Linked DNA regions of Homo sapiens. The protein of the gene in region 2 purifies or fractionates together with the protein of the main gene of each other region. This does not show direct contact. Each region holds a gene or a part of one and is shown on either strand. Other genes may lie near its edges. The genes, in order: ESS2, USB1, RBM22, CWF19L2, CDC5L, XAB2 and GPATCH1.

What was found.
Region 1: the proteins of USB1 (region 2) and ESS2 purify together in Homo sapiens (affinity purification with mass spectrometry; 2 studies listed by BioGRID and IntAct, with this or other methods). This does not show direct contact.
Region 3: the proteins of USB1 (region 2) and RBM22 purify together in Homo sapiens (affinity purification with mass spectrometry; 3 studies listed by BioGRID and IntAct, with this or other methods). This does not show direct contact.
Region 4: the proteins of USB1 (region 2) and CWF19L2 purify together in Homo sapiens (affinity purification with mass spectrometry; 3 studies listed by BioGRID and IntAct, with this or other methods). This does not show direct contact.
Region 5: the proteins of USB1 (region 2) and CDC5L purify together in Homo sapiens (affinity purification with mass spectrometry; 4 studies listed by BioGRID and IntAct, with this or other methods). This does not show direct contact.
Region 6: the proteins of USB1 (region 2) and XAB2 purify together in Homo sapiens (affinity purification with mass spectrometry; 3 studies listed by BioGRID and IntAct, with this or other methods). This does not show direct contact.
Region 7: the proteins of USB1 (region 2) and GPATCH1 purify together in Homo sapiens (affinity purification with mass spectrometry; 3 studies listed by BioGRID and IntAct, with this or other methods). This does not show direct contact.

What each region holds. Positions count from the first base shown.
Region 1 is NC_000022.11:19,134,431-19,138,419, reverse strand, and holds part of ESS2 (splicing factor ESS-2 homolog), read left to right. Parts: exon of another isoform or gene 1-102; coding exon 103-205; intron 206-987; coding exon 988-1,097; intron 1,098-1,473; exon of another isoform or gene 1,474-2,081; intron 2,082-2,160; exon of another isoform or gene 2,161-2,211; intron 2,212-3,244; coding exon 3,245-3,360; intron 3,361-3,944; coding exon 3,945-3,989. UniProt on the Homo sapiens protein: May be involved in pre-mRNA splicing.
Region 2 is NC_000016.10:58,017,918-58,022,118, forward strand, and holds the end of USB1 (U6 snRNA phosphodiesterase 1), read left to right. Parts: intron 1-1,054; coding exon 1,055-1,138; intron 1,139-2,223; coding exon 2,224-2,328; 3' UTR 2,329-3,701; downstream 3,702-4,201. UniProt on the Homo sapiens protein: 3'-5' RNA exonuclease that trims the 3' end of oligo(U) and oligo(A) tracts of the pre-U6 small nuclear RNA (snRNA) molecule, leading to the formation of a mature U6 snRNA 3' end-terminated with a 2',3'-cyclic phosphate.
Region 3 is NC_000005.10:150,690,944-150,694,932, reverse strand, and holds part of RBM22 (pre-mRNA-splicing factor RBM22), read left to right. Parts: intron 1-692; coding exon 693-857; intron 858-1,625; coding exon 1,626-1,714; intron 1,715-1,906; coding exon 1,907-2,038; intron 2,039-3,051; coding exon 3,052-3,182; 3' UTR 3,183-3,989. UniProt on the Homo sapiens protein: Required for pre-mRNA splicing as component of the activated spliceosome. Involved in the first step of pre-mRNA splicing.
Region 4 is NC_000011.10:107,325,763-107,329,217, reverse strand, and holds the end of CWF19L2 (CWF19-like protein 2), read left to right. Parts: intron 1-2,164; coding exon 2,165-2,308; 3' UTR 2,309-2,858; downstream 2,859-3,455.
Region 5 is NC_000006.12:44,390,552-44,394,540, forward strand, and holds part of CDC5L (cell division cycle 5-like protein), read left to right. Parts: intron 1-2,115; coding exon 2,116-2,277; intron 2,278-2,894; coding exon 2,895-3,022; intron 3,023-3,989.
Region 6 is NC_000019.10:7,622,613-7,626,601, reverse strand, and holds part of XAB2 (pre-mRNA-splicing factor SYF1), read left to right. Parts: intron 1-331; coding exon 332-466; intron 467-557; coding exon 558-722; intron 723-2,156; coding exon 2,157-2,301; intron 2,302-2,719; coding exon 2,720-2,871; intron 2,872-3,312; coding exon 3,313-3,432; intron 3,433-3,708; coding exon 3,709-3,840; intron 3,841-3,940; coding exon 3,941-3,989. UniProt on the Homo sapiens protein: Involved in pre-mRNA splicing as component of the spliceosome. Involved in transcription-coupled repair (TCR), transcription and pre-mRNA splicing.
Region 7 is NC_000019.10:33,115,539-33,119,527, forward strand, and holds part of GPATCH1 (G patch domain-containing protein 1), read left to right. Parts: intron 1-2,008; exon of another isoform or gene 2,009-2,129; intron 2,130-2,286; coding exon 2,287-2,503; intron 2,504-3,471; coding exon 3,472-3,579; intron 3,580-3,989.

The DNA.
Region 1 (3,989 bases), on a different chromosome or scaffold from region 2:
GGAGAGGAAGTGTTTCCAGCATGTTCCCACGTGTTTGCCCACCGGCCAGCTGTCGAGCGTGGGCTGCGGTCCCCCTGATGCCAGCCTCTCTGCTTGTTCCAGCACAAACAGGGCAAGGTGGGCCCCGATGGCAAGGAGCTGATCCCCCAGGAGTCCCCTCGAGTGGGTGGATTTGGATTTGTTGCCACTCCTTCCCCTGCCCCTGGTGAGAAAAGTGCCCACTGGCAAGTGGGTCTACTGCTGGGACTCCCTGGGGGAGGTGGGCTTCTCAGTCGGCCCTGGCCACTCCTGGCCTCTACCTGGCCTGCCCCACACCTTGTGTAACTCAGGGACCTGGTCTCCTGTCTGTACAAGGCCCTAGAGGCCAGGTGTCCAGGCTGCTTGGGGCCGTGGGTGGGCTGGACTCTCAGGCAGACCTGGCCTGAGACATCCTGGGATGACGTGTCCTGTCCTGGTCCTTACTGTGATGTCAGTGGGTGGGGGTGTGTGCACAGTGCTTATGAGTCTAAGTCTACCTAGCACTGCAGGGAGGGAGGCCCAGCACCTCAGTGGAGGTGAAACTCAGGTGGTCTTGTGGCATGCGTGGGTGTCCCTCTGCACTCTGGCCTCTGTGCTCTTGGGTGCTGGTGCTGTGTCACACGCCAGGGCATGTGAAGGCACCACAGGTTTGCCTGGGGTTCTAGGAGGTTTGGGAGCCCTGGAAGGCCTGAGTGTCTCCTCCTGCGTGGCTGGGGGAGACCTCCCAGAGGCTTGTAGGCTAAGCACATGGCTGTAGGGCCTTGAGCCTGCCTCGGGCCTGCTGGGAGCTTGGCATTTCCCTTTCGGAGGATGGAGGTGCCAGGGTTCCAGAGTCCTGGGGAAGGAGAGAGGGCTAGCTGCCTGCCTTCGTATTAGCTGGGATGCACATTGGGTGAACAAGCTGTGACTGGAGGGGAGGGTGGTGGGGAGTCCTCTGGCCTGAGGTGGTTTTGGGCTCTTTGTCTGCAGGTGTGAACGAGTCCCCGATGATGACCTGGGGGGAGGTTGAGAACACACCCTTGAGAGTTGAAGGGTCGGAAACGCCCTACGTGGACAGGACACCCGGCCCAGCTTTTAAGGTGGGTTGTGGTGATGGGGGAACTGTGTGCGACCGGGGTGGACACCTCTGGAGCCCTGAGTGCCTGTGGCTCAGGACTGAGCACTGGGATCGGCCCCCAGCTGCTGACGGGCAGAGTGCTGGCTTTTCTGAATGCCAGGGTGCTGAAGGCAGGTGTGGGTGGGTGGACCTGTCACAGAGGGATTTGGGGGTGTAAGGGCTGAGACACCAAGGCAGGGAGTGGCTTGGGCCCTCTGGATCCTGGAGGCCGGGTGCTGTTCATGAATGAGGCAGGATGGTCACAGACACGTGAGGAGCTCTGCAGGCCTGAGGGCCATAGGACGAGGCTGTGTGCTTGTAGAGAAGGCCCCTGGTTACAGAACACGATTGGGACACGCTGGATTACACGGCTCAAGCCTGGTGTTGTAGGAGTGGTCAGGGTGGAGTGTGTGAGGCCCGGCACAGACCAGGGGAGGCTCTTCGTGGGCTGGGTCAGATACAACAGGCCTCCCCATACCACTGCGGGCCTTTCCCCAGAATACTTAGTACAGGTAACCCATGTCCAGACAAAACATGGGGAGAGGTTCTGGTTACCTTGGTTCTAAATTGTCTGGGACACAAGGATAACCAAGGCAAACGTGCGAGAGGGATAATGAAGAGGATGCCGTGCTGTCCAATGTGAGAGCGCAAGGCAAGGGCTGAGGTGCTTCTGAGGTATGCCTGCCACTGCTTCCCGAGTCTCCAGGCCAACAGTAAACAGATAAATTCTGAAACAAACCATGATCCAAGTCAGAATTTGGGGCCCGATAAAGATGGCAACTCAGATTGCACTGAATAGCAGAGTATTTAGAAATGAAGGGAGCTGGGTCCTCAGGATGTGTAGCAGCATACATTGTGGAAAGGTGAAAAGGTTACATGTAAAAACAATAACCATAAAACAACCAGAAGAAAATAGTGGCGAATATTTAGTTTGATTTTTGGGTTCAAGTGATTCTCCTGCCTCAACCTCCCAAGTAACTGGGACTAGAAAATAGTGGCGAATATTTAGTTTGATTTTTGGGTTCAAGTGATTCTCCTGCCTCAACCTCCCAAGTAACTGGGACTACAGGCGCGTGCCACCACGCCCGGCTTATTTTTGTATTTTTAGTAGAGATGGGGTTTCACCATGTTGGCCAGACTGGTCTCGAACTCCTTGGCCAGACTGGTTTCGAACTCCTGACCTCGTGATCCACCCACCTCAGCCTCCCAAAGTGCTGGGATTACAGGCGTGAGCCACTGTGCCTCGCCTCTTTTTTTTTTTTTTTTTTTTTTTTAACAGATAGGGTTTCACTCTGTTGCCCAGGCTGGAGAACAGTGGTGCAATCATAGCTGATTGTAACATTGAGCTCCTGGGCTCAAATGACCTTCCAGCCTCAGCCTCCTGTGTAGCTGGGACTAACAGCATACACCACCATGCCCAGCTAATTTTGTGTGTGTGTGTGTAGAAATGAGGTCTTGTCATTTTGCTCAGGCTGGTCTCCAATGCCTGAGCTCAAGTGATCCTCCCACCTTGGCCTCCCAAAGTGCTGAGGTTCCAGGTGTGAGCCACCACTCCCAGCCTGTAGTCTAATCTTAAGTTAGGAGGGACTTTCTAAACATAAAAGCAAAGGAAGAAATCACAAATGAAAATAACAAATACAGCAGAAAATGTTATAAATGAAACAAATGTAAATGAGTGAAAAAACATGTGCACAGCGTAGCACAGTTGACTTGACACAAGGTCTTGGCAAGGGTCTTCTGAGTAACAGCAGCAGAAAAGGAAAATGAGCCCCTTGAGAGCAAAATAGGCCACAGGCACACGGGGAAGCGCCCGAAATACAGAGCGCCGATAAAGACAGAGATGTTCACTCTGATAATCAGGGAAACACTAAAACAGACTGCTTTTTCCTGAGAGATTGTCAGAGGTCATGGTTTTGGGAGGAACACGAAGACAGGTGAGGAGTGCTGCGCCTTGGGCAGGTCAGGTGGGGTTTGGGGCTTTCCAGGGGCTTTTAGTGGGAGGTGATGGGTTGTGGGGGTTTTGTAGGCAACAAAGAGAGGCTGGCACCCACCACAGTGGCTTTCTGTGTGAGGGGCTGCCTGGCGTGTGGCAGGCCTGGCGCAGCTACCCACACACCTGCTACCTTGTAGATCCTGGAGCCAGGCCGCAGGGAGCGGCTGGGTCTGAAGATGGCCAACGAGGCCGCTGCCAAGAACCGGGCCAAGAAGCAGGAAGCCTTGCGGAGAGTGACGGAGAATCTGGCCAGGTGAGGGGCCGCCTGGCTGGTGGGGAAGTGCGAGGGTGGCTCTGGCCTGCTCCTGTTCGGCCCCTGCCCTGACCGTGTGGAGGCATGGCCCACGCGGCAGAGTCCAGGGCAGGTCCGCGGGGTTCTGCAGTGGGTACTGTGGCAGCTCCTCTATCCAGAGCATGGCCGCACATGGACAGGATGAGAGGCCCCCTCCATCTTCTCTTTCCTCCACGTCCTCTTTGACCCGTCCCTAAGAGGCATCTTTAGGCGTGTGGTCCTGCTGGGAGCTTTCATCAGCCCTGTGGAGAGAGTCATCGTTCCCCTTGGAGAGGGGTGGGGACTCCAACTCTCAGAGGCCTGGGGGTGCACCCCAGCCCCCACAGCCAAGGGCGGTGCTGCTGTTTGACCTCAGGTTTGACCTGAGCGCTGCTGTTTGACCTCAGGGATCCCCCGCATTTGCTGCCATGCTGGCAGTACCATCCTCCTCAGCTCAGAGTGACTGTGTCTCTGCCCAGGCTCTTCCTGGGAGCCAAGGGAGGCCCTGCTGCCGGCAGCTCTCAGCCCACCTAACCCTGCCTCTCTCACCCATTCCTCCACCCCAGCCTCACCCCCAAAGGCCTGAGCCCAGCCATGTCGCCAGCCCTACA
Region 2 (4,201 bases):
ATGAATTTGAATGGAGACAATTATTGTTGCTTCAAAACTTGAGACTTTGGGGATTTTGTTCATGTCATCTGAAAAGTATGGTGTATACTGGAATGTCCTAGATCAGAATAGAGGGTGGATTTTCTTTCATGTCACAGATGTAATGACCCTCTGATACTTCAGGGAAAGCCTCTGTGAATACGACTGTCTTAGCTCAGGCTGTCATAACAAAATACCATAGACTGGGTGGCCTAAATAACAGAAATTTATTTTTGCACAGTTCTGGAGGCTAGAAGTCCAAGATCAAGGTGACAGCATGGTTGATGTCTTTTTTTTTTTTTTTTTTTGGAGACAGAGTCTTACTCTGTCGCCCATGCTGGAGTGCAGTGGCGCAATCTCAGCTCCCTGCAACCTCCGCCTCCCAGGTTCAAGCAATTCTGCCTCAGTCTCCCAAGTGGCTGGGACTACATGTGTACAACACCACGCCCAGCTAATTTTTGTATTTTTAGTAGAGACGGGGTTTCACCATGTTGGCCAGGCTGGTCTCAAACTCCTGACCTCAGGTGATCTGCCTGCCTTGGCCTCTCAAAGTGCTAGGATTACAGGTGTGAGCCACTGCACCCGGCCAAGCGTGGTCGGTTTCTGGTGAGGGTTCTTCCTGGCATATAGATGGCCGCCTTCACATGGCGGGGCAGGGGTTGGGGGCTACAGAGAGAGAGAGCAGTGCCCAAGCTCTCTGTGATTAAAGGGCACTAATCATGAGGGTCCTGCCCTCATGACCTCATCTAACCCTAATTACCCCTCAAAGGCCCCATCTTTACATACTATCACATTGGGGGTTAGGGCTACATGAATTTGGGGGAGGTGACACGATTCAGTCCATAGCAAGGACCAGTCCTGTGCTGTTTTGTCTGTCTGTGGAGGGTGCTTGGGATCAACACTGAGTATCTTGTCTCCCACTGGGCAGGCCAGGGATCCAGCAGGGATGTCACGACAGCTCTGTCACAGACCTGCTGTGAGGGCAGGGCCTGCCAAGGCGTCCGGGTGACTGCCTGCCTCTCGTTTCCCTCCCCAGGATCCTTCTTTCCACCTCAGCCTGGCCTGGTGTGTGGGTGATGCACGTCTCCAGCTGGAGGGGCAGTGCCTGCAGGAACTACAGGTGAATTTCCAGGGCGGGAGCACAGAGGGCGCTGAACTCCAGAAATGACAGGACAGATGCTGGAGAGGGGGAGGATGAGGCACCCAAACCTGAATCCCTGGGAAACAAATGACATGGCAGGAGACCCCAACACCTTCCCTTGTGACTCAAGGTGTGGCCCCTGGACCAGCAGCTTCAGTGTCACCTGAAGCTTATTAACAACACAGATCTTTGCCCCCACCCCCACCAAGACCTAAGAAATCAGAATTACATTTTAACAAGATCTCTGGGGATTTGTGTGCACATTACAGTTCTAGGGAGCACTGCCCTAGAACACTGATCTGCGAGGAGGCTGCAGGCTTTCCCTGAAGTCCTAGCCACTTGCCCAGAGGTCAGAGGCTTGGGCCTGGCACTGAAAATGGGTGAAATGTACCAGGGGTAAGGAACATCCAGCCCCCAGAGTCTATCAGATTTTGATAAGTAGCTGAAAGATTCCACTTTCCCATCTGCGCCCTTGGAGGAGAACCAGCAAGTTACATGAAGTGGTAAGCGGCGGCTGATACTCCAGCCCTGGTTGGGGAGACAGTAGGGAGTGTGGCCATGCGGGAAGATTGGCCTAGAGTTGCCAGCACTTCTGTTTCATAAGAGAAGCCAGAAACCTAGATTTTTACATGTAATCTGTCAGTTTTCAAATGTCAGCAACTAATTTGGATGTTTAAAAAACATTTTGCAACCAAACCAAACGTGCAGGCTGGATGCAGCTGTGGTCCCTCGTTAAGGAGCCACCTTGCGCTTGGCCTGATGTTGCTGGAGGTGGCAAAGAGCTCTAGTTTGGGCTCCGGCAGACCTGGGTCCCAGGCCTGGTTTTATTGGTTTCTGTGATCCAGGGCTCTGAGCATCTGTGTCCTCATCTGTAAAGTTGAGATGATAGGACCAACCTCAGAGATTACAGAAGTGATCAGACAAGATCACCAATGCAGAGCCTGGAGCCTGCAGCCTCAGCCTCGCCCAGCCTCTGAAGTTGGGTGAGCTGGTTTTGTTTGCAGTGCCCTGTGGGTCCCAGATGCCCCTTAATGTGACTGTCCTCCCCTGGCTGCTGTTTTAAGGCAATCGTGGATGGGTTTGAAGATGCTGAGGTGCTGCTGCGCGTGCACACTGAGCAAGTCCGCTGCAAGTCTGGGAACAAGTTCTTCTCGATGCCTTTGAAGTGAGCACCAGAGGCCTTCCTCCTCCAGGGCCCTCTGCAGACCAGGCTGAGATGGAGGAACCTGCTAAAATCGATGGAGATGCTTCTAGCCTCCCAGTAGGAGGCCCCAGCCATGCCTTCAACCTGGCAGGAGGTGTAGCCACTCCTCATCCTCCCTGAGTGCTGATATTCTCTCTCTCTCTTTCTCTTCCTCTTCTTTCTCTCTCTTCTCCTCTCTTTCTCTCCTCTGTCTCTCTTCCTCTCCTCTCTTCCTCTCTTCTCTCTTCCTCTCCTCTCTCTCTTCCTCTTCTCTCTCTTCCCCTCCTGTCTCTCCTCCCCTCCTCTCTTCCTCTCCTCTCTCTTCCTCTCCTCTCTCTACCCCTCCTGTCTCTCCTCCCCTCCTCTCTCTTCCTCTCCTCTCTCTCTTCCTCTCCTCTCTCTTCCCTTCCTGTCTCTCTTCCCCTCCTCTCTCTCTTCCTGTCCTCTATCTCTTCCCCTCCTCTATCTCTTCCTCTCCTCTCTCTCTTCCTCTCCTCTCTCTCTCTTGCTTTCTTCTCTCTCTCCTGTCTCGGCTGTTGTGGGTTGCAGGTTGGGTGCTGCTGTTGTGGTCCTTCCCAGAAACTGCCAGTAGAGGGCAGCCTGGGCATCCTAATGCTTACTCTGGTTGTTACACAAAGAAAATATTGGGGTCACTGGCGAGCCCACCCACACTCACCAGAATCTCCACTGTAGTCCCCCTAACAAACAGCCCTTCACTTCCTCTCCCACTTCAGCAATTTGTATTTTGATGCCATTGGCCTCAGATCAGAGTGTTTTAAATCATCACGCCCTGGCTTATCCCTGGTCGAGCCAGGACACGGGGTGCTTCAGTGGGTCTGTCACCCTCTCTCCTTGAAGCATGTTGCTTTTATTTATTTACTTTTACTCTCACCCTGCTCCTGTACCAGCAGGGGCCACTTCAAAGCCAAGGTACAGGGTGATAACTTGTGGTCCAGCATCAGTTTTCTCCACTTCTTTCTCCCACTCACCCCCAGCAAGGTGCCTGGGGAGACTTGAGCAGATGTTTCATTTTGGCCTGGCCAGTGGCTGAAAGCCAGGCCTCCAATGCACTGTGACCTCTGGCTTCCCCAGCAGCTTTCCCAGAGAGGCAGAGGGGCCTTCCACAGCCCGGGTTCTCCTGCTGCCTCCTGCCTGCTGCAGCTGCAGGCATTCTGAGGGGCAACGTGGAGGAAGGGCCAGGGATGCATGGGATTTTAATTGTTTCATCACACCTTCCCCGTGGCAAAGAAACAGTCAGTCCTCTTCAGGTGTCTTCTGGATTTCTGGTGATGGACAGAGAAATCTTTTTACAGTTTCAAATTATGTTCAACAAATAAAAATTGCATTTTTTATTTTGGATCTTTTTTGGACTACTTGTATTTAACCCAGTGAAAAGATGACTGTCACCTTCCCCTACCCTGTCCAGCTGTGTCTCACAGTTTGGGAGGATTCTTGGAAGTCTCTGCTGTGACTTCCAAGATGGCCTCGAGAGGCATTAATGATGCTTCAGTAAAATAAGGGTAGGGAGGGGTCACCCAGCCTGCCAGGTGTACACACAGAGTTCTCACATAGGACATCTAGCCTGGAGCTAGGTGGCAGGGGTCACCACCCTCATCCCTCACCCACATAGGCAGACATTGAAGCCTTATACTGCTGTGACACTGAGCACTTCCCAGAACCTTCTCGTGTCTTCCTCCCAGTATCCCCTGAAAGGTAAACAGGGTGGGAATGTCTAGTCCTCTGTTACAAGAACAGGTTAAGTGACTTGCTTGCATGAGAAATAGGGCCGTACTCAGCCCTAACCTCAGGTCCTGTGCTGGGGTGGCCCTGATCCAGCCCTGCACACCACCTCGTGGTCA
Region 3 (3,989 bases), on a different chromosome or scaffold from region 2:
GAATTATGTAGAGGAGGGAGAGCTTTGCGATGATAAAACTCTTGTGGTTTAAATTGTTGGTTTTTAAAGAGACTGGCATTTGATAAATTTGTGTTATTTTTGGCTTGTATTATGCTTGGCTAGATGAGACTTCTGGGCAGATAGTAATGGAAATTACCTCTTCCAAAGAGATAAAGTGGAGAAGAAACTCCTGTAAGTTTATAACCTGCCCTTGGTAGCCTGTCTCCATTAAACCCTATCTAAGTGAGCTAGACAACCCCCAGGGGTTGGCAGACTTTCGCTGTAAGAGGCTGGATGGTGAATATTTTAGGCATTGTGGGCCACATGCAGTCTCTGTCACGTATTCTTGTTTTAAACTTTCTTGGCTCATGGGCCTTGAGAGCTATGGTTTGCCAACCTCTTATCTAGGGTTTAGGGTCTTTAAAGAACCTATTAGAACCCCCTTTCCTCCATGGGAAAAAACCCTGAGATGTTTGAGAACCTTTATTTACTCATTATTTTTCTTTCCTTCTCTCAATCAGCAGCACCCACAGTAGGACAAGATATGGGGTGGAGACCTGCGGGTAGTTAGGCAGATAACCTTGGGGCCCACCTGCCTAGTGGTGTGTCAGTGAAAGTTAATCCATTTTCAGTCTCCTGGGTACATCTTTTTTAACTCCCACTTTCATTTTTCTCTGCCTGTTTCCCTTCAGAAATCATTTCTACCAGTTCGGAGAGATCCGGACGATCACTGTTGTGCAGAGACAGCAGTGTGCTTTCATCCAGTTTGCCACACGGCAGGCTGCAGAAGTGGCTGCTGAGAAGTCCTTTAATAAGTTGATTGTAAATGGCCGCAGACTGAATGTGAAATGGGGAAGGTGAGAATTAAACTATTTTTAAGTGACATTTTGCTTAGATTTTTAAGAAACTATTTCATTTTCTGGAGACTAGTAGGCTTTTGGTTAACAGGCTTAAATGAACAGGATCTTTAAAGAGATCTTTCAAAGATCACTCTCTATGTGATACTTGATTCCTGTGGATGTTGGGAGAACCCTGCTTTGGAAATGTATTCAGGGGGTTGGTGTATAATCTACTCCTTTGAAGGTTCATGTTTTTGTGACTAGCTATTATAGGCCAAGTATAATGCCAGGCCATGAAAGGTGAATTTTAGGGTTTATAAATGAATTAGACCTAGATTCTGCCCTTAGAGGCTGATTGTCCAGTGGAGAAGATAAAACAGGGAAGAATCGCTATTTTAAGTTTAAAAGTGATGATTGCATAAGAGAGACACAGGTGAAAGACCCAGTTCAAAGGGGGAACATGTCTCCAACTTGGAACCAGGGAAGTGATGGCTAATAGCAGCATCTGCCTTTGTGGAGCGCTCCCTATGTGGTAAGCACTGTGCTAAACACGTATGTGTTGCCTTTTCTGGTCCTTATGATAGTTCTAGCAGCTTTTGAACCCAGGTCTTTTCTGGTGTCAAAACCTTTGCTCTTGTTCACTGTGCACAGTGGCATTTATGGGAAAAGAGTGTGTGCTGAGGAGGAGGTAGAGCGAAGGAACTCCATTGGACTGGGGAATGTAAGAAGCAGAGGTGTGAGATAAGGTGGGCCAGAGTGCCGACTGTATGCATGTGTGTTTCCCAGATCCCAGGCAGCCAGAGGAAAAGAAAAAGAGAAAGATGGAACTACAGACTCTGGGATCAAACTAGAACCTGTTCCAGGATTGCCAGGAGGTGAGTGCAGACTCCCTGCTGACTTCAGAAGCTCTTTCTGCCCTGATGTTCCTATTTTGGAAGATGGGACCCAGGTCTGGTTCATGTTGCCGCTCTACTCTCCCAGTAGGACCTCTGAGAATGTAAAGGTGGTAGAAACAGCGTTGCACAATTGTTCTCCCCTCTATGTGTTGACTATTTTCTCTCCTCCAGCTCTTCCTCCTCCTCCTGCAGCAGAAGAAGAAGCCTCTGCCAACTACTTCAACTTGCCCCCAAGTGGTCCTCCAGCTGTGGTGAACATTGCTCTGCCACCGCCCCCTGGCATTGCTCCACCCCCACCCCCAGGTAACTTCCATCTTCCTTCTTAGCCCAGAGAAATCCTTGTGAAAGTTCTGTCTCATAAACCTCACCATCATGTTCAACACATCCAAATCCTGTGAGTTTGCTCTGTAGAAGTCTACCAGTAAAGTTGATCTGTTGGGATTTCTGAAATTTTTCTTTCTCCTGCTCTGCCGAGGAGAAGAAAGGGGCCAGTTTTCTAAAGATCCGCGTATATGTGTCAGCAGAGTAAGATTATTAGATTACAAAGATCTATCACCAATTTGTTCCCTTTTCTAAACTAAATGCTAATGGATGCCCTAGAGCACTATTGCCCAGTGTGGGCTGTGAGCGGGTGTCATTTTACAAAGTGTTTATCACCTGTCTGCCACAAGATCAGGAGCTTGTGCCAAAATGTAATCAGTGAACCCCTTCCTTCATTGAGAAAGTCTTGTTACCAAAAAAACTGTCAGATGAACTAAACTGTGCCTGGTCGTATAATTTACATTTTGACTCAAGCTCTTTGTCTTGAGTGGCCAGAAATAGGTGGAGGACTGGCACTTCGTATAGCACTGCTGTAGACAGTGTTAACAGTGGAAGGAAATCACAGGTAGCCAGTTCTCCTGTGGCAGAGAGCCCATACTCTGAAGAGAATCTGGTTTCTGAGCACCCTCCATTCTGGTGTCAAGCATTGAGGTTAATGATGACACAGTCTTTGCCATCAGCCTGATTTCTTTCTTATCTCCCAAATCCTGACTGAATCCTGTCTGGTAGGATTTGGCATGTTGGATACATAGCAGAGACTCAGATGACATACTAGGCGATACCTTGAGTGCTGTGGAGTTTTTTGGACTGTGGGGGAAAGGTTTCTAAAACCAAGGAAATAACAAGTGGAAGTAAGTTTGTGAACTGACATTTGCTTAAGCCCCGTGTCAACCTTGATTTATGTGTAGGTGGTTTTAACCTTAGCAAGATTGAGAGGTTTGAAAGGTTATCAAGGAAACTACCAGCCTAACACATTTGTTCTCTCGTATCTGCAGGTTTTGGGCCACACATGTTCCACCCAATGGGACCACCCCCTCCTTTCATGCGGGCTCCAGGACCAATCCACTATCCTTCTCAGGACCCTCAGAGGATGGGAGCTCATGCTGGAAAACACAGCAGCCCCTAGCACCTTGTCACCACTCTGGGGCTCTGTGGAAGAAAGGGCACTTAAAACTCCCAGTAAATCTTGGAATAAATATATTTTTCCTTCCCTTGTAGTTTCCATGGTAGCTGAATGTGCTCAGATGTGAGCAGTCAGAGACTGACAGCCATGCTTTCCTATACTTGTTCAAAGGATCGATGGACCGTAAATAAGCTGCCATTAACACATCTGGTTACTGCTGTAACATGACTAATAAAACCGAACGCCTGTTCCCCTTACCCGTGTGGGGGACACGCAGATGAGTGAATTGGAATGTCCAGCAGAGTTACCCTCCCAATTATATGTTCATTTTGTATATTTTTTGGTCGGGGGAAAAATTGACCTGCAGTAAAAAAACCTTTGACCATTTTTATGTCCATTGGATACTTTCCTTTTTATCATCTTAAAAAAAGATAACTAGTACTAATCATTGTAGTGGCCTAAGTGTGATTTAACTCTTGAAGTCACACCCTCCGAAAGATGAGTAGAAACCAGCACCAGCACAGCCCAGATCTTCTCTTTCCTCTCCTTTTCCTCATTTATTCCTAAAGGAATCTGACCATTTTACGTCTCTACGGCCCAAAAAAAGACAAAAATAAAAATTCCTTTTTATTCCTGTCAACTGGATGGAAACACAAATTTCATGGAGCTGTGTACCATCGAAGAAACCTGGTGTCTGGCATGAAATTACTGTAAAGAACTTCCTGTAAAACACGTTCTTTAACAAACTGAAATGAAAAGCATTGGAGCGTCTGAATGAAAGACGTGACCTCCTGCTGGGACTCTGATGGT
Region 4 (3,455 bases), on a different chromosome or scaffold from region 2:
CAGCAACTGAAACAGTCAAAAGTAGTCTGGGCAATGATTGCTCTAGAAGTGAGCCTTTAATCTAGTATAGATCAGGCCTTTCCATTCATATTTATCCCTATGTAGCCAGGCCCTCTGAAAAAGAGGGGCCTTGGTGAACTCTGCTTGGGATTCCCTGTTCTCCACCCTGCTCCCCACTTTCATCTCCTGCAGAGGAACATCTTCTGCAATGAGTAGAAATATCTGAAGAGGAATCTCAACTCCAGAGGTTTGATTCAAAACTTTTTAATGCTCTTGTCCTTAGTGGGTTAACCAGCATAACAAAGTAACATGCATCTTTGAACTGTTATAACATATTACAGAAACAAGTTTGAGAAGTGTTCAGAATTTTTTTTAACTAGAAAGAAATGTGTTTTCACTGTTCTGAAAAATCCTGTTGTTATACAGTAGAGCTTTATAACCAAAAGCTCTATGGCTGGATTTATTAAAAACAAAAACAGAAAAACAAAACAAAACAAAAATTTGGTCCTAGAAAAAAGGAAGTAAAATATCCATTTTTAAAAAGTTGTATATATTAAACTGGGAGATTGCCCTTTCTTCACATATTATTCATGCATTCTGGTTTATATGATTCAGTTTTGGAGTTAAAAGTAAATTTTCTCTGTCAGCATTGCGTCACTGAGCCATTTTCCTCAAAATTTGCTTTTTAAGAAATAGCCTGTGGGCTCAAGACCTCCCTGCAGTCTGCTGCTGAAGCAGTTGTTCAGAGAGCAAGAAGAGATTATGGGGATAGTCTTTCCATTAACAGCTGCTTTGATAACAGAACAAGAGTCAAGCTTATATGGTAGATGTAAGACAAAACTTGGTATTTTATAGACAATTTTAGGTAAACTTTTATAAGCTAGGCTTTCTTAAACTACATTGCTTATTTGGACCGATGCTGAGAAACTCTTGAACTAAATCTCAATTTGCCCTATTTCTCTTTTCTACTATCTCTGTTGACCCCTTTATTTCCCTTCCCTGATGACAGGAGATTCCCTTTTCCATGAAGCATCTCCTGGTCTGGCCAACAAATAGATTGTTTTTTTTTTTTTTTTTTTGAGTCTCCACAAATGGTCTGCTTTGACACTTACCTTCTACTTTATGAGACAGTCTGCTGCATAGCTGGATTATTATTCCTCCCACCACAGCTCCAGATTCTATTCTGTCTGAAGACAACTGTGTGTCTTCACCCCACAATCTCTGTATCCCCTACAACATACGGCATTTGCTTCTGCATAGTAGGTCCCTAAGTAAGATGAAGAACCTGCATCTGAAAGATTATGTGGTTTGTGCAGGATCTCACCACACAGTCTGGTGGAGCTAGACCGACTATGCAGAATTTGATCCTTAGTCTGTTTTTTGTTGTTGTTGTTTTGTTTTTTGTTTTTTGCTTTGTTACCATACTGCCCTCCCTCTAAGCATTTAAGCATTAGGAGGCTCCCCCATGTCTTTCTGTTCATGGATACTCACATGCCTAAATTTGATTTATTTCTATAGCTAACAGCACAGGAAGAGGATCATGAAGGAAATCAAGAATAATAATCAGATAACCAAAAAGCCATTTATTATGGGACTTGAGAATGTGATTTTTTAAATGAAAGTGATATATAATTTTTAATTCTATCAATAGGTTTACTTAAACTAGTATTACAATAGGATTTTGTTTCATGAAAAAAGATTTCTGCTAATAGTGGAAGAAACTAATTTATAAATATACTTGGTAGCAGAGAGAGAACATTAGCTTGGGATTCAACTGCAGTTGAGCAGTAAAGTTAATAATTGCTAGAAGTTGATTAACATTTTTGCAAAATTGTTTACGGGAGCCTCTAATAGAGATCATATTAATTAAATTTCACTTGTTTTCCCTCCCCTTTGTTACCATCTAGTAGATGTGCTAATAAGCAACAAAATGGACAAATTGCTTGATAGGAGATGCAGCTAACTTGGACTCTTAGAATCACACGGTTTGCCTAGTTAGAATTAACTGAAAACATATTTTTTTAACTTCAACTAGTATTTATGCTTGAACATTGTCATGGAGAAGAACTTGTTATATTTTATAGCAGAATAAACAGAAATAGTTTCATTTCTGTTTTCATTATTTATACATGCTTGTGTTTGTGCTTTTCTCTTTCTTTAAAAGGAAATCATAGGTGGGATGCTGGATATAGAACCAAGACTTTGGAGGAAAGGCATCCGAGAAAGCTTTGAGGATCAGAGGAAAAAAGCACTGCAGTTTGCTCAGTGGTGGAAACCATATGACTTCACCAAAAGTAAAAACTATTGAGGTGTACCTTCCATTTTAAAATTTTTCTTCAGATCCCGTTCAGTTTTATTTCCATTGCATCTAATGAAGCAACTGACCCTCAGGTCACAGGCAGAGAGAGTCACAGCAGCAGACTGCTCTGGGTCAGTGACAACTGTACATCAGGAGATTGTGTTGTTTTCTTCTTCACCTGCTCCTATCTATGGACTTCATTTTAGTCACCATGGAGTAAAAACATATATTCGATGATCTGCTCACATTCCTGCTCTCTACCTACTTCTTGGTATTCCGAATTGTTCAGTTAATTTAGAGAAGGCCTTTTCTGAAGGGATATCTAAAAAGCATAGGAAATCCTTGGTTCAGAGGGAAGTGGGTCTGCTTCATGGTTGTTAAGTCTACTGTCTGGCTTCTTTTGCATTTTTAAAAATAAGACGATTTAATTTTAATTTCATAGGATTTTATAGAAAAGCTCTTAATTTTCTACTAGCAGTATATAGTATCACTTCTATTCTTTTTGTTAAAGGAAAAGGAAATGTCCCCAAAGTATTAAAGAATTAAATGATACTGAAAATTTGTATGATTCAAATTTGTTTTTATTTCTGGATTTTTAAATAGTATCTTTGAATTTTGGTGGTTCTAAAAGTAATTCTTCCAAATAACATATTTTAGGGTTGTTTGGGGTTTGCATGAAAGTTAAAATTTATAGCCAAATCATTGGTTTTGAGTTGTACTGATTGTCGTAAAATCTTAAGTAATGAGAGTTTTTATTTATTTATCTTTTTGTTTTGTTTTTATTTATTAAGACAGAGTCTGGCTTTGTCACCCAGGCTGGAGTGCAGTGGCCCAATCATAGTTCACTGTAGCCTTGAACTCCTAGTCTCAAGCTATCCTCCTGTTTCAGCTTCCCAAAGTGCTGGGATTGCAGGTATGAGCCACCATGCCTGGATGAGAGTATGGGACATTCTGTTGTCCCTTACTTGATCCAAGGAACGTAATTTTTATTTGTTCTCAACTCACACCATAGTCATATTTTGTAAGTATAGGGTTTTTATGTTTTGAGTGCTCCTACTTTTCTTTTTCTTAATGGAAATTATTGTTGTAGTAACTTTTTTTTCAGCTATTGGCTTTTTGGAAGCTGAACCTTTTTGTATGAAATGTTGGATACCTA
Region 5 (3,989 bases), on a different chromosome or scaffold from region 2:
GCCATTTTTCTATCCCTCTCCCCTGCCCTTGTTTTCTCCCAATTAGGGATAATAATACTTGGTCCTGACTGATAGAGATGTGAGTTGTCATCTAAATGGGTTAATGTATTTGAGAGTGCTTTGTGAAGCATACAAAGTCTACTTTCAGGGACAGATGAGCCCCAGCTTGTAAATTAATTGTGTTCTAAAAGTGCATAAGTTAGCTGTTTTAGAAATTACTTGCTCAAAGAAATAAATGATAAATAATGGCTAATTTTCTAAGTAAGCCTACAGTAGTTGAGTTTCCTCATAATACAGTTGAAATATTATATATTTTATAGTTAATATGTTATATATTATATATTAAACATACTTAATGTTATATATTATATATTAAACATATTTAATATGTTATATATTATATATTAAACATATTTAATATGTTATATATTATATATTAAACATATTTAATATGTTATATATTATATATTAAACATATTTAATATGTTATATATTATATATTAAACATATTTAATATGTTATATATTATATATTAAACATTTAATATGTTATATATTATATATTAAACATATTTAATATGTTATATATTATATATTAAACATATTTAATATGTTATATATTGTATATATTAAACATATTTAATATGTTATATATATTAAAAGATATAAGCCAACTCTGAACCTGTGGTGTCACCTCTTTTTTATTTTTATTTTTTGGGACGGAGTCTTGCTCTGTCGCCCAGGCTGGAGTGCAGTGGCGTGATCTCAGCTCACTGCAAGCTTTGCCTCCCGGGTTCACGCCATTCTTCTGCCATAGCCTCCTGAGTAGCTGGGACTACAGGCTCCTGCCACCATTCCCGGCTAATTTTTTGTATTTTTAGTAGAGACGGAGTTTCGCCGTGTTAGCCAGGATGGTCTTGATCTCCTGACCTCGTGATCCATCCACCTCGGCCTCCCAGAGTGCTGGGATTACAGGCGTGAGCCACCGCGCCCGGCTGGTGTCACCTCTTAAATCATAGGGTAGTGGACACGTGAAGCTATTTAGGGTGTTCTTGGCATGAGTTATTTAGCACCATCCCCAAGTCATGTGGCATTAGGAAAATACTTTGGATTGTATAAGAATGACCTAATTTCCTAGGCACCTGGTTAGGGGAAAGTATCAGAATGTAGAAATTGGCCAGGCGTGGTGGCTCACATCTGTAAGCCTAGCACTTCGGGAGGCCAAGGCTGGGATCACCTGAGGTCAGGAGTTTGAGACCAGCCTGGCCAACATGGTGAAAACCCCGTCTCTTCTAAAAGTACAAAAATTAGCCAGGCGTGGTGGCTACTTGGGAGGCTGAGGTGGGAGGATCGGTTGAACCCAGGAGGTGGAGGTTGTAGTGAGCTGAGATGCTGCCACTGCACTCCAGCCTGGGCGACAGAGTGAGGCTTTTTGAATGTAGAAATTGGCTGTTAAGAGGAAGATGATTTTTAGGCTGAAGAAGTCGTTCTGATTTCTGTTTGTCTTAGTGGTACCAGTTCCTGCTGTCATATTTGGTAGGACTTAAGTCCTGTTTGCCTGCCTGTCATCCAGCTAAGTAGACTGGATGGAAAAGGTGGGCTGGGTGGGGAATTAGGAAAGACAGAGGGAATGTCATAGTAGTTTTACTTAAATTTTAAAACATATCAAATGAAAGGTTACGGTGAATTTAGTGAGTGTAAGTCAAATGCTTAAAGAAATAAGCCATGGTGTGAGAATCAAAGCATGAGAAAATAGTATGAAAACTGGAAACACTGTAAGAAACGTGATTTTGTATTGTCTTCCAAATATTTCAAAATTTCTAGAAAAGCGTAAATAAATAAAAACATGATAGATGAGAAAGAAGGCTTATGATCATGATTCAGTGAAGTAACCTTTTTTAACCATTACTAATCTTGCATAATTAAAATAAAATAGAATGTGATGAGATGGGGAATATTGACTGGGGTAAGTGTAACCACACAGCAAATATTCTGTTGTCAAAAAGAACAGTTTTTGTAATTGAAGGATGAGAGCACAAGTCAGTGTATCCATTGTGCAAATTGGATATTTATGCCAGGTAACTGATTAATATATAAAATGATCTATGTTTAATAGGTATGAATGGCTGGATCCAAGCATTAAGAAGACAGAATGGTCCAGAGAAGAAGAGGAAAAACTCTTGCACTTGGCCAAGTTGATGCCAACTCAGTGGAGGACCATTGCTCCAATCATTGGAAGAACAGCGGCCCAGTGCTTAGAACACTATGAATTTCTTCTGTAAGTGAGTCTTCAGAAAGAGCATAGAATATATGTATATGTTCTGAAAGAGGCTGAATAAACTTTGAGTATTTTCTGTCTTTAAACTTTTAATTATGGATGTGAGTAAACCCAAAGCTAAAGCCATTGGATAATATTTTCCATATCTCAGATGGTTGATCAAAATTATGCCTTCTGTCATATACTTCCTAAAATAATAATTTAAAAGAATTATACAAGTCATGCATGTTCATCATAGAAAATCTGGGGAAAAAATAGTAAAAGAGCAAATAAAAGTCACCCATAATCACACTGCTAAGAATTAACTACTGGAACATTTTGGTTCTTTACTAATAGTTTTTTTTTTTTTTTTTTTTTTTTTAAATTTGTATGGCTGTACCGCATTTGTGATTAGGATCTGTTTGGGTTCTATTTTAGAGTGATTGAAACCAGTCACTGAAATCAGCAAATTTTAATATCATTTCTTTCAGATGAAGTGATAGTAAAAAGGCTTTATGTTGTTAAAGCCCATCCATTGGTTTTTTTGGGGGGAAAAATATCGTCAGAACTTGGAAATCTGGTAATTTTAACTCTAAATGGTACTGTAGTGTGACTAACTCCTATGGGCTTTTTTCTAGGGATAAAGCTGCCCAAAGAGACAATGAAGAGGAAACAACAGATGATCCACGAAAACTTAAACCTGGAGAAATAGATCCAAATCCAGAAACAAAACCAGCGCGGCCTGATCCAATTGATATGGATGAGGGTAAGTGTATGCTTTGAGGAATTTATTTCTTTGGTAACTGTAAACTCCTTGGGCCTCACTCTTTTAGTTCCTTTCTGAACTCCTCTACTTTAGAATCCCTTTTTTTTTTGAGACAAGGTCTTGCTCTGTTACCCAGGCTGGAATGAAGTGGCACAATCATGGTTCACTGCGGTTTTGACCTCCTGGGCTTAAGCAATCCTCCCATCTCAGCCTCCTGAGTAGTTGGGACTACAGGTTTATGCCGCCATACCTGGCTAATTTTTAAATTTTTTTGTAGAGATGGGGTCTCCCTGTGTTACCCAGGCTGGTCTCAAACTCCTGGGCTTAAGCTATCCTCCCTTTTCTGCCTCCAAAAGTGTTGAGATTATAGGTGTGAGCCACCATACCTGATCCCCAATTCTGTCAGCAGTGTTCTTATTCTAAGTATCTTTCCAAATATGTCCAGTGTTTTCTGTTATAGAGTAGTTGCTTTTTCTGAACAGCGCCCCTTCATCTTCTGTTTCTTCAATTCAGTTAATTAAGTTAATTAAGTGTTACGGGGTGTGGTGGTATGTGCCTGTAGTGCTAGCTGCTAAGGAAGTTGAGGTGGGTCGATCTCTTTAGCCCAGGAGTTGGAGGCCAGTCTGGGCAACATAACCCCTTGAGCCCAGAAGTTGGAGGCCAGCCTGGGCAGCATAACGAGACCCTGTCTTTAAAACTGAGTAGTGTAATTCTACTGAGTAGATTTTTCAGAGGCTAGAGGTGAGCCCTTGAAGATCCTGTTTCTCATTCCTATTCCATGGAGAGAGACATCAAGTCAGAATATTGGACCTCAGTCCTCCTATTAATTACTTATTTGACTATAGGCAAGTTATTTATTCTGTGTGAGAAGGCAACCTGTGAGACGGTGATGGAGACTTAACAGTGATTCTGGGAGGCATTGAATCAGGAATTCCACAATAGAAAGTATATGGAATCAACCTAAGTG
Region 6 (3,989 bases), on a different chromosome or scaffold from region 2:
ATTGGGGCTGAGACTGGACCACCGCAGTCAAGGCTGTGCCCTTGCGGGTCAAGGCTAACCCAAAAAGTCCACAGCTGGTCTAGTCAGGACTGAGGCTGGACCAGTGGAGCCAAGGCAGGACCCACAGGGGGTTGAGCCTAACCCAGTGGGGCCAAGGCTAGACCAGTAGGAACCGGGCTGGACCAGTGGGGCTGAGGCTGGTTTGACAGGGCTTGCTTTTGCCCAAGACACTCATAAATGGGTGGGGGGGGACGCCCCGAAGCCACTGAATCGGGAGGTGGGCGTAGCCCTGCCACCCCACTGACTGCCTGAGGGGTGGCTCGGTCCCCAGCTGAGTCCTGAGAGTGCAGAGGAGTACATTGAGTACCTCAAGTCAAGTGACCGGCTGGATGAGGCCGCCCAGCGCCTGGCCACCGTGGTGAACGACGAGCGTTTCGTGTCTAAGGCCGGCAAGTCCAACTACCAGGTGGGCCTGCCGGGAGCCGGCAACTGGGTGGGAGGGCCACCCCCTCCATGACTGAGCCTGAGACTCTCCCCCACTGCCCCATGCCCTGCAGCTGTGGCACGAGCTGTGCGACCTCATCTCCCAGAATCCGGACAAGGTACAGTCCCTCAATGTGGACGCCATCATCCGCGGGGGCCTCACCCGCTTCACCGACCAGCTGGGCAAGCTCTGGTGTTCTCTCGCCGACTACTACATCCGCAGCGGCCATTTCGAGAAGGTGCATGCTGGCACACGGGGCTCTGGGTTCGGGGCGGGGTCTCCCTCCGACACTCGGGGACACATGTTGACACATGCACAGGCAGAAAACATGCCATTTATGGCTGGGTGTGGTGGCTCACACCTGTCATCCCAGCACTTTGGGAGGCCGAGGCGGTAGGATCACTTGAGGTCAGCAGTTCAAGACCAGCCTGGCCAACATGGTGAAACCCCATCACTACTAAAAATACAAAAATTAGTCAGACATGGTGGTGCGCGCCTGTAATCCCAGCTACTCGGGAGGCTGAGGCAGGAGAATCGCTTGAACTTGGGAGGTGGAGGTTGCCGTGAGCTGCGATCGCGCCACGGAAGTCCAGCCTGGGTGGCAGAGCGAGACTCCATCTCAAAAAAAAAAAAAAAAAAAAAAAGTGCCATTTTTGACAGACATGCATATCCCTGCACACGATTACTATCCTGCTGAGGGTGGGGGAGCACTCCTGCCCGCAGGCACGTCAGCCTTGGAGTCAGCCACATTTGCGTTCAGGGTTCACCCTCTGGCTCTGCGGCCTTGGCCCCACTAAGGTGGGGTGTCTTCATTTGTAAAATCAGGGTGACAGTTACTGCCTGTCACCAATCAGCTCAGTGACGCAGGCACAGCACTGAGGAGGTACGTGGTGTGAGGGCCACTCCCTCAGGGGTTAGCTGACTGTGGCTCTTGGCAGGCAGTGGAGTGGCAAGCTCAGGGGATGGCCTGGGGGCAGGTGGGTGCAGAGGGGGCCAGAGCCGAGAGCGGGGAGGCTCAGGAACCCAGGGAAGATAGGTTGGGAGCCTCGAAAGCCAAACGGGCTGGCCATGCTCCTGGCTGGGGGAGCCGCCAGTGGGGTGTGGGCGGTATGCGCTTCGCAGCGCCCCTTCCAGGGGCACGTGTAGGCCAAGGCTGTCGGAGGCAGCAGGGCAAGACCCGTCAGGGCTGGGTAGAGAGAGGGGACCTGAGCTGGGGTGGGCGAGCCAGGTGGAGGACAGGCGGGCTGGGGAAGAGGGTCAGGCAAGCGAGAGGGACGCTTTGGAGCAAATTCTGAGGCCTCGGAGGATGAGCTGAGGCGAGGGTCCCTGCAGGGTGGACCCATAGGCGCTGGGGGGTTTTTGGCCACCTATTGGGTGCCAAGTGCTTCACACATGTGTCTCAGTCGAGCCCTGAGGTCACTGTGTGCAAAGGGCAGTCACCCAGTTTACTGAGGAGGTCCTGAAGCTCCCAAGACCACCCTGGCAGTGCAGGGCAGGGCGGGGGTGAGAAGGCTCCACGGAGGCTCTGTCCTGGGGTCACTACCCAGAGGTGCTGGATGCGTCACTACCCAGAAGGCCCCCAGGGGTTCCACATTGAGGCTGGTGCTAAGAGTGCTGCTGCCTGTCCCCTGCGCCACTTTCCTCTCACCTCCCCTTCCCTGGGTCCCCACAGGCTCGGGACGTGTACGAGGAGGCCATCCGGACAGTGATGACCGTGCGGGACTTCACACAGGTGTTTGACAGCTACGCCCAGTTCGAGGAGAGCATGATCGCTGCAAAGATGGAGACCGCCTCGGAGCTGGGGCGCGAGGAGGAGGGTGAGCCTCTGGGGGCCCCGGCTGGTGGGGAGAGAGCTGAGTGGACATTAGCGGTAGGGGCGGGACACATCTCAGGTGAGGCAGCCCTGGGAGGCTCAGCTGGGGGCCAGCAGGGAAGGAGGCTGAGTGGATGCAGGGGGTGTGGGGGTCTTGAAGGAGCCAGGAATGGGGACACTTCTCAGGCCTGGGCCAGAGCCTGGCAGGGCAGGAGGGCTAGGGGAACAGTGGGGGTAGGAGGGGGTATCCACAGTACCTGGGGCTGGGGGTGGGGCTCAGGTGGACACCCGAGCTGAGTGTCTAGGGCCCAGAGCACTTGGCTGGGGGCTGGAGCGGAGTGAGGGTGGGGAGTGGAGGCGGTGGCATCCGGGGACCTGCATCCTGGGTCTCCGCCCCTGACAAACATGTTCGCGGCTCCCAGATGATGTGGACCTGGAGCTGCGCCTGGCCCGCTTCGAGCAGCTCATCAGCCGGCGGCCCCTGCTCCTCAACAGCGTCTTGCTGCGCCAAAACCCACACCACGTGCACGAGTGGCACAAGCGTGTCGCCCTGCACCAGGGCCGCCCCCGGGAGGTACATGAAGCCTGCCCCAGTCCTACCCCTGAGGGCCAGTTTCCTGCAGAACTGGGGAGCCACCCACCTTCACCCATAATGTCACCTTCTAGGGGCCTGACTTTGCTTAGTAGGTCCAATTCCACCCCTGTTCTTGGGGTTCTCCTCCTGCCCGAGCCCCGCCCCTCAGAGCCACAGTCCCTCCTGGCCCCACCCCTTGGAGGGCCACAGCTCCCTCGTGGCCCCGCCCCTTGGAGGGTCACAGCTCTCTCCTGGCCCCGCCCCTTAGGGCCACAGCTCTCTCTTGGTCCTGACCATTGTCAAGGGCCATAGTTCGTTTCTGGCCTCTCCCGACAGGGGCCACAGCACCCTCCAGGCCCCACCCCTCAGAGCCACAGCTCTGCCCCGACCGTCATCTGCAGGGTCCTGAGTCCTATATGACCTCCTCCCTCCTGTCCCCAGATCATCAACACCTACACAGAGGCTGTGCAGACGGTGGACCCCTTCAAGGCCACAGGCAAGCCCCACACTCTGTGGGTGGCGTTTGCCAAGTTTTATGAGGACAACGGACAGCTGGACGATGTGAGCACCCTGTTGCGTGTGCCTGTGTGTTCATGCATGTGTGTGTGCTTGTATATGTGTGCATGTATGTGTGTGTACATATTTGTGCATGGATGTGTGCACGTGTGTGTGCATGTGCATTTGGGTGCATGCATATGTGCACGCATGTGTGTGCCTGTGTGTGTGCCTGTGTGTTTGTGCCTGTATGTTTGTGAGCATGGTCACCTTTCTGACCCTTGATGGTGGGAGCTGTCCAGGTGGGCAGGGTCTCAGCCTCGCCTCTGCCCGCCCCGGCAGGCCCGTGTCATCCTGGAGAAGGCCACCAAGGTGAACTTCAAGCAGGTGGATGACCTGGCAAGCGTGTGGTGTCAGTGCGGAGAGCTGGAGCTCCGACACGAGAACTACGATGAGGCCTTGCGGCTGCTGCGAGTGAGAACAGGCCCAGGCTGTGGGGTGGGGGCTGCAGGTTGTAGGGCAAGGGCCAGGGACAGCCCCTGAGCGCCTCCCCGGCCACTGTCTGCCCCTGCAGAAGGCCACGGCGCTGCCTGCCCGCCGGGCCGAGTACTTTGATGGTTCAG
Region 7 (3,989 bases), on a different chromosome or scaffold from region 2:
GGCTGGAGTACAATGGCACTGTCTCGGCTCACCGCAACCTCTGCCTCCCGGGTTCAAGCAATTCCCCTGCCTCAGCCTCCTGAGTAGCTGGGATTACAGGCAGGCACCACCATGCCTGGCTAATTTTGTATTTTTAGTAGAGACGGGGTTTCTCCATGTTGGTCAGGCTGGTCTTAAACTCTTGACCTTAGGTGATCTGCCCGCCTCAGCCTCCCCAAAGTGCTGGGATTACAGGCATAAGCCACCGCGCCTGGCTAAAGTGGGTTTCTTATAAACACCGTGTCACTGAGTCTTTCTTAAAATACATTTTGATAATTTATATTGGACATTTGCATTTAATGTGATCATGGATATTTTTGGATTTACGTGTATGATGTTATATTTTCTGTTTATTACCACTCTTTTTTGTTTCTTTTTTTCCCCTTCTCTGCCTTCTTTTGGATTACTTGAATAATTTTTATATTCCATTTGAATTTTTCTATTTTTTTTCTCTTGGTATTTTTTTTTTAGTGATTGCTCTAGGGATTATAGTATACCTACTTACCTTTTTACAGTCTACTGAGAATTAAATGTTTTACCACTTCCAGTAGAATAGAGAAGCTTTAGCACTATGTAGGTCCTTTTACTCTCCTCCCTCTATGCTGTCTTACATATTACATGTACACACAATGAAAATGCCATCAAACCAGTGGTGATCATTTTTGCTTTTAGTCATTAAACATATTTTAAAAGAACCGATGCAGAGACAATAGCCTACTCTGTTTAATCAGATATTTTCTATTTCTGTTGCTCTTTCTTCATCCTTGAAGTTCCACGTTCCCCTCACCTATCATTTCTGTCTGAGGAACTTCCTTTAGCATTTCTTTTAGACCAGTTCCAACAAGTGATTCTCTTAAATTGCCATTATCTGAGAATGTCTTATATTTTGTCTTCATTCCTGAAGGATGTTTTTGCTGGATATAGAATTCTGGGTTGATAATTTTTGTTTTGTTTTGTTTGTTTGTTTTTTGAGACGGAGTCTCGCTCTGTCACCCAGGCTGGAGGGCAGTGGCGCGATCTCAGCTCACTGCAAGCTCCACCTCCCAGGTTCACGCCATTCTCCTGCCTCAGCCTCCCGAGTAGCTGGGACTACAGGCGCCCGCCACCACGCCTGGCTAATTTTTTGTATTTTTAGTAGAGACGGGGTTTTACTGTGTTAGCCAGGATGGTCTCGATCTCCTGACCTCGTGATCCACCCGCCTCGGCCTCCCAAAGTGCTGGGATTACAGGCGTGAGCCACTGCGCATGGCCAATTTTTTTTTAAATTAAACTGCTACTTCCTCCGGGGTTTCGTGATTTCTGATGAGAAATCTTCAACCATTCAAATTGTCCTCAGGCTGGGTGTGTTGGCTCACATCTATAATCCCAGCACTTTGGGAGGCTGAGGCAGGGGGCTTGTTTGAGGCTAGGAGTTTGAGACTACCCTGGGCAACATCGTGAGACCCCATCTTTTACAAAAAATTAAAAAACTAGTTGGGTGTGGTGGCATGCACCTGTGGTCCCAGCTACTCAAGGGGCTACGGTTGGAGGATCACTTGAGCCCAGGAGGTCAACACTGCAGTGTGCTATGATCGCACCATTGCTTTCCAGCCTGGGTGACAGAGTGAGACCCTGGCTCAAAAAACCCCAAAACAAATTATTATTCCTCTGTACATAATGATGTGATTTTTCTCCTAGCTGCTTTCAAGATTTTTACTTGGTCTTTGGATTTTAGCGGTTTGATTATGATGTATCTGGGTGTGAATTCTTTTGAGTTTATTTTGTTTGGGGTTTGTTAAGTTGCCTGAATCTGAGTTTGGAAATAGAACAGAGGCACAGTGCTCTACTGCATTTTTGGGGATCCTAGTAGCTGGGATTACAGACGCCCACCACCATGCCCAGCTAATTTTTGTACTTTTAGTAGAGACAGGGTTTCACCATTTTGGCCAGGATGGTCTCGATCTCCTGACCTTGTGATCCACCCGCCTAGGCCTCCCAAAGTGCTGGAATTACAGGGGTGAGCCACCACGCCTGGCCCGGTTTTGCTTCTTTGACCTCATCAGCACATTGTACAGTTGTTGACTCGGAAACACCACAAAAATAGAAGCTATGTGAGTGATCACTGTTTAGTTGGGTGGTGTGTGGCTATGGATACCCATGTACATGAGCATAAACATAAATATGTGTGTCTGGGAGTGTATTCTAGAATGTCTCCTCCCTTTTACCCTTGCCTCTGTATCCCTGACTCTTATTTCACTGTCAATACAGACCGTCAACAAAGATGTGGACGCACAGGCTGAAGGAGAAGGGAGCCGCCCATCCATGGACTTATTCAGGGCCATCTTTGCCAGTTCCTCAGATGAAAAGTCCTCATCCTCCGAGGATGAGCAAGGTGACAGTGAAGATGATCAGGCAGGCTCTGGGGAGGCCAACTTCCAAAGCTCCCAAGACACTGACTTGGGGGAAACATCATCTGTGGCTCACGGTATGTCAGTATTTCAGACTCGGGGATCTAAAGGAGAAGACAATGACTCTAGGACAGCTGCTTCTCTGTTTACTCTATAATCTTAAACCCGAATGATTAGCAATCAATGATATGTAATCTTTTATATGTATATAATTTTTTTTTTTTTTTTTTTGGAAACAGGATCTGGCTCTGTCCCCAGGGTGGAGTACAGTGGCGCAATCTTCGGCTCACTGCAGCTTCCACCTCCTGGGCTCAAGCAATCCTCCCACTTCAGCCTCCTGAGTAGCTGGGACTACAGGAATGTGCCACCACCCCTGGCTAATTTTTGTATTTTTAGTAGAGATGGGGTTTCACCATGTTGGCCAGGCTAGTCTCTAACTCCTGACCTCAGGTGATCTGCCCACCTCAGCCTCCCAAAGTGCTGGGATTACAGGCATAATCCCAGTGCCCGGCTAGTTTTCCAGACTTTTAAAATTTTTATATCTCTTCTATCTGAATATATAGTAATCTGCTTAAAAAACAAGATTATTAACGTGAATATGATCATTTATCTTCAAGGTTTTTTCTTTGATAATTTATTTTGAGTGAAACTTGTCTCCCGCAGTTCTCTGTGATGGGACATACATAGTCTTACATTCCTGATGGTTTGTAAGATTTTCCTTCTCAGATGGCCCTTTCTTGGGGACACATTTCTACTTTTCAGGTCTTAGGGGCGCTAGGCTACGTGCCCACGGGTGCACTTGGCACGCTGTACCTCAGCCATTGCTGCCCTTGGTTGCAGGTGCCCTCGTGTGACTGACTTCCAGCTCTGGAGTTCACAAGGGCAGCACCGGGGTCTGCGTGTTCACTGCTGCATCCTTAGCACCTGGCAGGAGTGAAGTGGTGTGGGCAAGCATATGTTATCTGGTGGCAAAAGACATGAATGAAAGACTCAGAGACATTAACATGGGGCAGACGAATGACATGAACACCCCGCTGTTTTTCAGCTCTTGTGCCAGCACCCCAGGAGCCGCCACCTTCCTTCCCGATACAAAAGATGCAGATAGATGAAAGAGAAGAGTTCGGCCCGCGGCTGCCTCCCGTCTTCTGCCCCAGTGAGTGCAGAGCCCTTTGGTTCGCCCATTTTTATCAGTGTGTGATTGCCCTGAGATGGGGACAGTGTGACTTAGAGCCGACCAAACATACGTGCTTGCTTCTGGTTTATATGTTTTCAGTCATATTTTAAACCCGTTGTCTCCACCTAGTGCCTGAAATGATAGTTGTTTCTATACACCTTCAGAGACCTCCAAACTTTATTTCCTTTACCTGCCACATGTTTACAGGAGGGTCCTAAGTATCTTAAGTTTTGTTATAGAAATATAAGTTTCCCAACAGAGCTTAAAGAAAAAGAGCCTGGCCGGGCACAGTGGCTCATGCCTGTAATCCCAGCACTTTGGGAGGCCGAGGTGGGCGGATCACGAGGTCAAGAGATCGAGACCATTCTGGCCAACATAGTGAAACCCCG